Linked DNA regions of Homo sapiens. The protein of the gene in region 1 purifies or fractionates together with the protein of each later gene. This does not show direct contact. Each region holds a gene or a part of one and is shown in the gene's direction. Other genes may lie near its edges.

The links.
Region 2: the proteins of SUCLG1 (region 1) and NFU1 fractionate together in Homo sapiens (co-fractionation; one large-scale study listed by BioGRID). This does not show direct contact.
Region 3: the proteins of SUCLG1 (region 1) and LARS2 purify together in Homo sapiens (affinity purification with mass spectrometry; 2 studies listed by BioGRID and IntAct, with this or other methods). This does not show direct contact.

Annotation. Positions count from the first base shown.
Region 1 is NC_000002.12:84,449,185-84,452,838, reverse strand, and holds part of SUCLG1 (succinate--CoA ligase [ADP/GDP-forming] subunit alpha, mitochondrial precursor), read left to right. Parts: intron 1-3,086; coding exon 3,087-3,190; intron 3,191-3,654. UniProt on the Homo sapiens protein: Succinyl-CoA synthetase functions in the citric acid cycle (TCA), coupling the hydrolysis of succinyl-CoA to the synthesis of either ATP or GTP and thus represents the only step of substrate-level phosphorylation in the TCA.
Region 2 is NC_000002.12:69,427,436-69,431,089, reverse strand, and holds part of NFU1 (NFU1 iron-sulfur cluster scaffold homolog, mitochondrial), read left to right. Parts: intron 1-3,654. UniProt on the Homo sapiens protein: Iron-sulfur cluster scaffold protein which can assemble [4Fe-4S] clusters and deliver them to target proteins.
Region 3 is NC_000003.12:45,520,973-45,524,626, forward strand, and holds part of LARS2 (leucine--tRNA ligase, mitochondrial), read left to right. Parts: intron 1-3,024; coding exon 3,025-3,136; intron 3,137-3,654.

The DNA of each region.
Region 1 (3,654 bases):
GGAATTCAGTGAAATGTTTCCCATAGACCTACTGTGTGTAAGGCACTGACCATATACCATAGGAGACAAGATGAGTAAGACATGGTCCTGACACTCATGGAGTTTACAGTTAGCAGTGGGAAAAGTATTTAGATGGTACTTGAAATAGTCTTGAAATAAATTTAAGCTTAGATAATTTCACTTAAAAATAACATGATGAAAAGAGTAAGAATATGTGTGCACTCAGTAATGTAGTGTGTGATGGTGTTTATTGTATACCCACATGAAAGCGTTTGTAGCTTCTATTCTTCTTAATCTCAGATCCCTTTTAAAGTCCCCCAGTATACTCATAAATCATGTATATCGTGTGAAGATATAGGAATTCTTGACTGTGTAATGTTTTATTTAAATGTTAATTTATATGGATCAATGTAAGTGAAATTCTCAGAAAGTTGAGGACATTAAATCTTTAATTGAAAGGTAAGAGATATTTGCAAGATGGTTTGGCCACCAATGTATGCCTTGTGTTCTAAATTTCACTTTAGGAAGTCACTTACTGTAGTAATTTGGTGGCTTTGTCACCCTCCCCACCTCTTACACATTCATAGACTTCTCTACCTTGAATAGGTGTGGGGAGTTTATCCACCCCAAATGCCCAAGGCTTTTTTTTTTTTTTATTATAGTACTTCACACACCACGCAGTTATGGCCCACTTTTATATGAGTTCAGATAGATTGTGAATTATTTGAGGGCTGAGACACTGTCATTCATCACTTTATCCTTGACACCTGACATTATGGCTTGGTATGGGTGCTCCTCAAATGTTGATTGAATCAATGAACGAACTCACATTTCAGTACCAGATGATAACCTTGTCTGGCATCATACAGGTTTATTGTCAGGATGGAATGTGATCAGGAATTTCACTTCCTTGCCATTGAATACATTTCTTGGATTTGCCTGTAAGACGATAATAGTCTGTTAGTTCCAGCTTATCTAGAAGTGGGTCTGTATGAGCCCAGGCCTGGTGTGTAGATGGGGAGATCACACATGCATGAGCGCACACACATCTACACCTGTGCATTAGAGGTTTCCCAAGATTTAGTTAATTAGATGCTGCAGGCTCTCAGGGGCATTGCACAGGCTGAGTAACACTAAAAGGCTAGGGGATTGGGAGGTAAGCTGCTGTTTATCACACTTCTGATACACTTTTTATGAGCACCAAAGATCTGATGTTGTAAAATCTTGAGCTCCATAGAATTGATCCAGGAGATCTGGAGTTACTACGAGAAAGCAGAGATCTTCGTTGGTCTGTTATTGGAGCTGTGCTTTAGGGACACAGACAGACCTGCCTTTTCTCAGGGTGACTTCTGCTCCTGTGGAAGGAGAAGTGAATTGTCTGATCTTTGTTAAGTTAGTGAGTATAAGAGTACTTGTGCAGAACCAAACTTTACCTACAAAAAGTATTTTATGTTAACAAGTAGGGACTCCAGATATCCTGATCATAACATCTGATCTTATAATCAAATCTTCTACCTTCTGGTCTGAAAACATATGGTATGATATGATATGATATGATATGAGCATTTGTTGAAGATGCAATGGGAGGGACTGGTAAAGCCAATTCCACTAGTCAGAAATTGTAGCAGGGTAGGAAAGGGTGTAGCTTCTACACAAATACCATGGTTGTAGGTGTTCAGCTGGGAGAAGTGGAAGCCAAGGGCAAGAATGGGTCTCGAATGCAGCACTGGCAAGGGTGGGCTGTGCTGCACAGCTCAGTAGGGACAGGGTCTCAGGCCATAAATCCCTGCTGTGTCCACTGGCCTAGAGTCAGATGCTTAGCTGTGACTGATGTGCCAGAACTTGACCTGCAAAGCCCATGGCCCCTTGTTGAGCACAGTCTAGTATGAGAAAGCTGCCTGTTACGTAGCAGTTCTTTGTGTGTACCAAATATTATCCAGGTGGTAAGGGCTAAATCTGGGCCTGTCTTCTCCCTAGAGGTGTAAGGGATTCCATATACTTCCTCCAGAAGCAGATGTTGTTGCTCTTTCAGTTATGTAATGTGAGGTCAGGACTTAGGTGGGTATGAGGCAGTGATTTAAGGCAGAAAGCATGGAGTGGACTCTGGGCAAATATGTGACAGGTGTTCTTTTTTTGTTGTTCAATAGAGATTACTCCTTATGTTCTTTTCTTGGGCTAGCTTCATGGGCTACCACAATGATAGGTAGAAGGCCTGGCTACTTTGAAAGGGCCAGGGATGGGCCACAGAGAAGTCAGGTTGTTAGTATTAATGGACATTTAGAAGGTAGCCCAAAATTTTAAGTCATCTATGTTCCTCCTACTGTGTTTTGAAATGTGGGGAGCTGGTTGTAGTAACTATTTAGATTTCTCAATTTCTCTTTTAGGTAGGTTGCTGCAATAACCTAGGGTTTTTTTTTTTTTTTTTTCCTAACAAGCTTTTTCCTGTCTTGTCTACTTTCCTATTTGTTTTATTTTCCCTGTGTCTTTTATACATGAGTTCATATCAGAAGAGATTAAGTGATTTTGTATTATATTTTAGATAAGTTTTATCCTATGACTTAACATTTAATATGTTGTTCTTACTAGAGAATGAGTTGCTGAGTGATTTTTACTTGTATTCCTGACAAAGTTTGCCTCTTAGCTTACCTATTTAAAGGTATTAGGCTTTAAAAATTTGGGTCAAGTGGGGAAACGTGGCTGTTTAGTAAACATTGTTAATAGGGGTGACATTTTGTTTTCAGTCCCTGGATTTAATTTTAACCATTTATCTTTGAGCCCCAGTTTTTTTCTAGGAAATAAAAATGATAAACATTGCTTTTTTTTCCCTCAGTTCAGGAAAAAACTACAAGATCGTGGTTCTTGATAAAGAGAGGATCCTGGAGAATGGAACAATGTCTTGTCTGTTTTTCTTATTTCTGTGGTCACTGTGTCTTATTTAAAAGGTGGCATTTAGGTTTGCCGTGATCACAGGATAGCGCGTGCATTAAAGAATTTTTTTTTTGTGATCAAGTTGAATTATTGTTCAAAAGTTTAGAAAAATTATAATGTGTCTTTTTTTTTTTTTTTTTTTTTTTTTAACCTCTTAGTGCCGCAGAATGGAATTCGGCATTGTTCCTACACAGCTTCTCGGCAACATCTCTATGTTGATAAAAATACAAAGATTATTTGCCAGGGTTTCACTGGCAAACAGGTATGTATATCTAGATTTTTATTTTCAAATGTAGACTAGAGATATAACAAATTAACTATTTTTTTATTTTTAATATCTCAAAAATAACACATGATTGTTGCAGAAAAATATACTGTACAGCAATGGGGTTGTATCTCAGGAGGAGGTTAGTTGCTATTGTCAGCCTATAACATAAAAATTGTGTTTAAACTTACCTTGCAAAGGAGTATATTGTATGCTTACTAGGAGTATATTGTTTTGGAGGCCCATACACTTTCTTTCAGCAAATACAACACTAATGATTTTCCTCCAGTGTTGAAAGAGATCACCGTTTCTTTGACTAAGCACTAGGTCAACTAGATTCTTGTGTTTAGGTTTTGTACAAACAGACAAAAAACCGTATTGTTAAACACAGAATCCATATTCAGTGTGGAGAAATGCTCAAACCCAGAGAGGCTCATGGATACTGAGACAAGGGAAGAACC
Region 2 (3,654 bases), about 15 Mb from region 1:
GATATATACTTTAATTTTCTTTAATTTGGGAAATAGATATGATTTAAAATAATTTGAAGTGTGATGACTGTAATGTAGAGTTAGGGAAGTTTAAGGGGAGAGGGTATGTGTGTCTGCATGTGTGTATGTATGTAAATGTATACCTATATGTGTTATGGAGCTGTAAGCATATAAATTCAGCCTCTCCTTTCCATTGCTAGCTTGAACACATTCCTGTGGCCATACTCTGGCTGATTCTGGCTAAGGGCGTGAGTTAAATCAGGGTAGACCTTACCCCTTCTGTAGCCAGGGGCCAGAAGAGGAACACTTTCCTGCAGGCTTGCCTGACTGCTTGGATCACAGAATAGCTTAGATATAAATATTGTAAATACTGAGTAACTCAGCTGATTAAACCACTTTAATTGGACTTTTAAACTTTGTAGGACTGAAATATGTGGTCATATAGGCTTTTCAAATAGGAAACCCATTAATTTTAGTCATTGATATTGACTTTAAGCACCACTAATCTGTATTTTGGGGGAGTTTACATCTACCTCCTTAGGTACCTATTAGTACCAAGCATAATAGGAAAAAATAGGCTGGCATGGTGGCTCATGCCTATAATCCCAACACTTTGAGAGGCTGAGGCGGGCAGATCCCTTGAGCCCAAGAAGTTCAAGACCAGCCTCAGCAACATGGTCAAACCCTGTCTTTACAAAAAAATACAAAAATTATCTGGGCTTGGTGGTGCATGCCTGTAGTCCCAGCTACTCAGGAGGCTGAGGTGGGAGAATCACTTGAGCCTAGGAGGTTGAGGCTGCAGTGAGCTGTAATCATGCCACTGCACTTCAGCCTGGGCAGCAGAGTGAGACACTGTCTCAAAAAAAAAAAAAGGAAGAAATATTTTTTATCATTCTGTCCTGTTTCCTGTTGTAAGTCTCATGACATTTTCATGAGCATCTTTCTGGATGATGGACCTGGGAGTCATTTTTGAAATACAAAATTAAACCCAATTGAGATTATAATTGTAATGATTTTGTTAAGTACCTATTCAAATTAGGTGTTTTTTTTTGTTTGTTTTTGAGGCAGGGTCTCACTATGTTGCCCAGGCTAAAGTGCAGTGATGTGATCTTGGCTCACTGTAACCTCCGCCTCCTGGGCTCCAGCCATCCTCCCACCTCAGTCTCCCAAGTAGCTGGTACTACAGGTGCGTACCAACACACCCAGCTAATTTTCGTATTTTTTGTAGAGACGAGGTTTCACTACATTACCTAGGCTGGTCTTGAACTCCAGAGCTCAAGTAACCTGCCTGGCTCAGCCTCCCAAAGTGCTGGGATTATAGGCGTGAGCCACCGTGCCCAGCCTGAATTAGTTTTTTAGTAATAGCTTTATTTATTGTCAACAGTAAAAAGTTCTGTGATGATGTCATTCATTTTCATACTTTCTACTTTAGATAGTATAGAGTATATGCTCTTAAGTGACTTTTTATTTTGCATTTGTAGTTTTTACCCTCAAGGATTTCTAAAAATTTTGCTTTCTGCAGGTGTAGTTTTTCTCAAATTGATTGAGTAGAATAAAGCCAGATTTTTTTTTTTTGTCTTGGCTCACTGCATTTTCTACTGCCTGGGCTCAAGCAGTCCTCTTGCCTTAGCCTCCTATGTAGCTGGAATTATAGGCACATGCCACCACAGCTGACCAATTTTTGTATTTTTTTGTAGAGACAGGATCTCTGTTGCCCAGGCTGGTCTCGAACTTCTGCCCTCAAGTGATCCTCCTGCCTTGGCCTCCCAAAGTGCTGGGATTATAGGTGTGAGCTGATGCACCCAGTTGAAGCCAGATTTAATTTTTCAAATATTGGTAGAGTACTGTGTGCAGATTTTGGTTAGCAATAAATTATTAATACAAGCTGCAAGAAATGATTGGTTCAGAGCCAGAGTTAGAAGATTATTTACAGAAAGTGTTGGCAGCCCTTTCTTTAATGTGTCATTGAAAAATCATTCCCTTATAACACAGATTTTCAGAAGAATGTCTTACTAGAAATATACATATTTTAAATGAAGTACTTGGACATTGCGGCTATTTTTTCATTTTTTAGGAATTGTCTGGTTGTCTAATTAGAAAAAGGATTTAAACAAAATGTATGGGAGTTCACTTTCAATTTTTTTCTTTATCCATGAAATGGTTTAACTTCAGCTAGCTGGAACTGCATGGCAAAGTACAAAAATGGCTCTCAGTTGTCAAATTAGAACTTTTTCTGTAATGACTAAGAAAAGCATTTTTGTACCAACCATATGTTTTGCCAAATTTAAACTCTTTCAAATTTAAAATAAAACTGTTGCTTTTTGATATTCTATTCTCTCTCCTAAAATAGGTGATGTGAAAATTAGGACAGGAAGATTGATCTTAAATGTATTTTCCTATTATGCCTGGCAATGTTAGATAAGGATTAGCAATATGTACGGTGGCTAAGAAAGTCAGCACCTAGAAAATTGTCCAGCTTTGAATCCTGGCTCTGTCACTTAGTAGCTGAGTGACCTTTAGTCTCCTTATTATAAAATAAGATAAAAATAGTAAGTATTGAAAGTACTCATTGAAAGTATGTAAGGATTAAATGATATAATACATGTAAAGTGCTTAGCACCCTGCCCAGTGCATGATAGGCACTGAATAATTTTTTTTTTTTTGAGACAGAGTCTCACTATGTCTCGCAGGCTGGAGTGCGTGGTGGCTGGATCTTGGCTCACTGCAACCTCCCTCTCCTGGGTTCAAGCAATTCTCCTGCATCAGCCTTCTAGGTAGCTGGGATTACAGGCGCACATCACCACACCTGGCTAATTTTTGTATTTTTAGTAGACACAGGGTTTTACCATGTTGACCAGGCTGTTCTCGAACTCCTGACCTCAGGTGATCCGCCTGCCTTGGCCTCCCAAAGTGCTGGGGATTATAGGCATAACCCACTGCGCCCGGCCAGGCACTGAATAAATTTTAATTGTTATATAGTATTGTCAGTCTATTTAAATATACTGCTGTAAGATGGAGGATTTCTTTTTACTCAGAAGGTTCATTTTCTTTTTTCTTTTTTCTTTTTGAGACAGAGTCTTGCTCTGTTGCCCAGGCTGGACTGTAATGGCGCAATCTTGGTTCACTGCAGCCTCCACCTCCCAGGTTCAAGTGATTGTCCTGCCTCAGCCTCCTAAGTAGCTGGGATTACAGGAGCGCACTACCACGCCTGGCTAATTTTTGTATTTTTACAAATACCTCTACAAAATAACCCTACCTCTACAAAACCCCTGTAGAGACGGGGTTTCACCATGTTGGCCAGGCTGGTCCTGAACTCCTGACCTCAGGTGATCTGCCCACCTCGGCCTTCCAAAGTGCTGGGATTACAGGTGTGAGCCACCACACCTGGCCTTTTTTTTTTTTTTTTTTTTGAGACTGAGTGTCACTCTGTCACCCAGGCTGGAGTGCAGTGGCACATTCTTGGCTCACTGCAAGCTCCGCCTCCCATGTTCAAGTGATTCTCCTGCCTCAGCCTCCCAAGTAGCTGGGACTACGGACGCACACTACCACGCCTGGCTGACGTTTGTGTTTATAGTAGAGATGGGTTTTCACCATGTTGGCTAGGCTGGTTTCAAACTCCTGACCTTGTGATCCACCTGCCTTTACCTCCCAAAG
Region 3 (3,654 bases), on another chromosome or scaffold:
AGGCCAGGAGTTCAAGACCTGCCTGGGCCGCGTAGAAAATAAAATAATTAGGCCAGGCATGGTGGCTCACACCTGTAATCCCAGCACTTTGGGAGGCTGAGGCAGGCGGATCACGAGGTCAGGAGATCAAGACCATCCTGGCTAACACAGTGAAACCCCATCTCTACTAAAAAATACAAAAAATTAGCCAGGCGTGGTGGCAGGCACCAGTAGTCCCAGCTACTCAGGAGGCTGAGGCAGGAGAATGGTGTGAACCCAGGTGGCGGAGCATGCAGTGAGCCAAGATCACGCCACTGCACTTCAGCCTGGGCGACAAAGCAAGACTCCGCCTCAAAAACAAAGTAAAAAAATAAAATAATTAGCCTGGCATGGTGGCATACAGCTGTAGCTGTAGCTACTCGGGAAGCTGAGGCGAGAGGATCGCTTGAACCCATCCTGGGCAACAGAGCAGGAGACTCTGTCTCTAAAAATAAAATTAAAAGGGTAATTTTTAAAAAGTAAAATAAAGATAAAAAAGAACAATGGAAGAAATTTCAAATTTGACTACATAAAACTTGACATTTTCAGTATGTTAAAAAAATTTATAACATGTCAGACAGAAGGTTAATATCCTTGTAAAGCACTCTTACATATTAATATGAAAATACCTAACCAAAAATGGTCAAAGCATATGAAAAGATAATAACTCATAGAAAATGTTATAGAAATAGCCAATACATTTGTGGAGAAAAAAAAGTCTGCCTCTCTAATTATCATGAAAGGCAAATTTAAAACAAGATGCTTTTGTTTTTGTTTTTGTTTTTTTTTAAATACCTGTCAAATTTGCTGAGAATACTTTAACGTAACTATTCAGGGCCAGGCACAGTGGCTCATGCCTGTAATTCCAGCACTTTGGGAGGCCGAGGCAGCAGGATCGATTGAGCTCAGGAGTTTGAGACCAGCCTGGGCAACATAACAAGACTTCATCTGTAAAAAATTTAAAAATTAGCCAAGTGTGGTGGCATGCACCTGTAGTTCTAGCTACTCAGGAGGCTGAGGCGGGAGGATCCCTTGAGCCCAGGAATTTGAGGTTGCAGTGAGCTGTTTGGTGCCACTGTACTCTAGCCTGGGTGACAAAGCGAGACTCTCTCTCAAAAAAATAAAAATAAAGGCATAATTATTCCCCATGCTATTGCAAAGATGGCAGAATAGACTTTTACACGCCAGTGATAGGTGTGGTTGGTGTAACCTTGCCAGGAAGCACTTCGGCTATCAGGTTGATTGTGTTATATCCTCTGATCCAGGAGTGTTCACTGCAGATAATTTATAATCACAGAGACTCGGAACCCCAGTGTCCTCTGATGGGGGAATTGTGAAATGACTTATGTCATATCAATAAGAAAGGAATGTGCCACCACCATTAACCTCATGTCTTGAAGAATACTTAATATCAGAAACTGTTTATGATATAATGTTAAGTAAAAACACATGACACAAGGCCAGGCACAGTGGCTCACGCCTGTAATCCCAGCACTGCGGGAGGTCAAGGCAGATAGATCGCTTGAGGTCAGGAGTTCAACACCAACCTGCTCAACATGGTGAAACCCTGTCTCTACTAAAAATACAAAAAATCAGCCAGGGTGTGGTGGTGCACACCTGTGCACCTGTAGTCCCAGGCACTCAGGAGGCTGAGGCAGGAGGATTGCTTAAACCTGTAGGCAGAGGTTGCAGTGAGCTGAGATCACACCACTGCACTCCAGCCTGGGCAACAGAGAGAGACTCTGTCTCAAAAAAAAAAGATACAAAAGTGTTCATATGAGCTGGGTGCAGTGGTTCACACATGTAATCCTAGCATTTTGGGAGGCCAGGGCAGGCAGATGGCTTGAGCCCAGGATTTCGAGACCAGCCTGAGCAATATAGTGAGATACCCCATCTCTATTTAAAAAAAAAATTAATTTTTAAAATTAAAAAAAAGGAAGTGTTCATATGGCAAGAATACCAATCCTGAAAATGTTACATGTGTAATAAGCATTTATATACACATTTTTGCATTTTTGGAGACAAGGATAAAATATACCTTTTTTTCTAGGTTGTATAATTATGAGTAGTTTTTCATTTCCTGTATATTCTGTGCTGAGTGTGTGTTAGTTTTTTAATCAGAAAAAATAAAGCAAGACACTGAAATGAAACTGTAATGAATTTCTGTCTTTCCATTCCGGAATTTGGGAAGTCCTTAATAATAACACACAGAGCTAAACACAACTATGTTTGCCGGAATTGACCAAAGGTATTTCAGAGAATAGGGGTCCCTAAGTAGGGTATAGAGGCCCCCCTGCCCTAGGTGTTTCACAGTTTAACACCTTTGAGCAGGTCTCAGTGCATTTCTCTGTGGACCTGCAGCACAGAGGAAACCTAGCAGAGTGGGTAAGAGTTTGGCTACAGTGTGCCTGGGGGCAGATTGCCCTCCCTTGCTGATCCTTAGCTGCTTCATCTGTCCAATGGGGTAAGAATACCACCCTCAAAGAGTGGTGAGGACTAAATAAGTTAACATCATGTATTTGTTGTTGCTGCTGCTGGAGCTTTTTTTTTTTTTTAAAGATAGGGTCTCACTGTTGCCCAAGCTTCAGTGCAGTGGTGCAGTCATAGCTCACTGCAGCCTTGACCTCCTGGTCTTAAGTGATCCTCCCACTTCAGCCTCCTAAGTAACTGGGACTATAGGTGTGTGCAACTGTGCCTGGCTAATTTTTTTTTATTTTTTAATTTTTCATAGAGATGAGGTCTCACTATAGTGCCCAGGCTGGTCTCAAATTCTTGGCCTCCCAAAGTAGTGGGAGTATAAGTGTCAGCTACCACACCTGGCTTGCTGTAGTTTATCTCAGTGCTATCATTAAGTAGGGGAAGTTCATTGTCCCAAGCAGAAATGGATGGCAAAGGGGGTTTCTTCCTACCAGCTTGTGTCTCTGGACTTCAGATACATTAATGGTCTTTCTTACCCGTGCTTATTTTTACACCTCAGTCTTCTTACTTTTTTTTCCTCTTCCTTAGCAAGCCTCTCAGAGCGTCATTCTCCACAGCCCCGAGTTTGAGGATGCTTTGTGTGCCCTGATGGTAATGGCTGCTCCACTGGCCCCTCATGTAACCTCAGAGATCTGGGCAGGTACGTGGCAGAGTCCTTTTTTGACCAGTTACTACTAACTAGAATTTGTCGAAGCCTCTTTTTGAACATCATTCGGGACTCAGATGTCCTCAGATATAGGGTCCAACATTTGGCATCTATACTCAGCAACCTCTCTGTCCTGTACTCTGAATGGTAGTACTTCATCCACATGGTCACCCCTACCAAAAGGAAAGACACTTCCCTGCTTTGAATAATGTGCCCAGACTAATGTGGGTGTTGATGTTACCATCTTAATCCCTTCTCGTGACTCAGCCCCCCAGTATCCACATATTATGACCTGCGTGGTCTTTTTAAGATAAAAACTCATGTTTAATACCACTGTACAGGTGGAAATTAAGTTATAGGTCTAAACTTACACTGTAATTCAGCACTCTTCACCAATTATTCCTAATCTAGGCATCAAAGCAGGCCTGACTGCCTGCTTGAATTTCAGCCCCTAGAACCCTCCACATCATTGGGACTGTTAGCCTGGACAAAACCAGGACTTCACATAATCA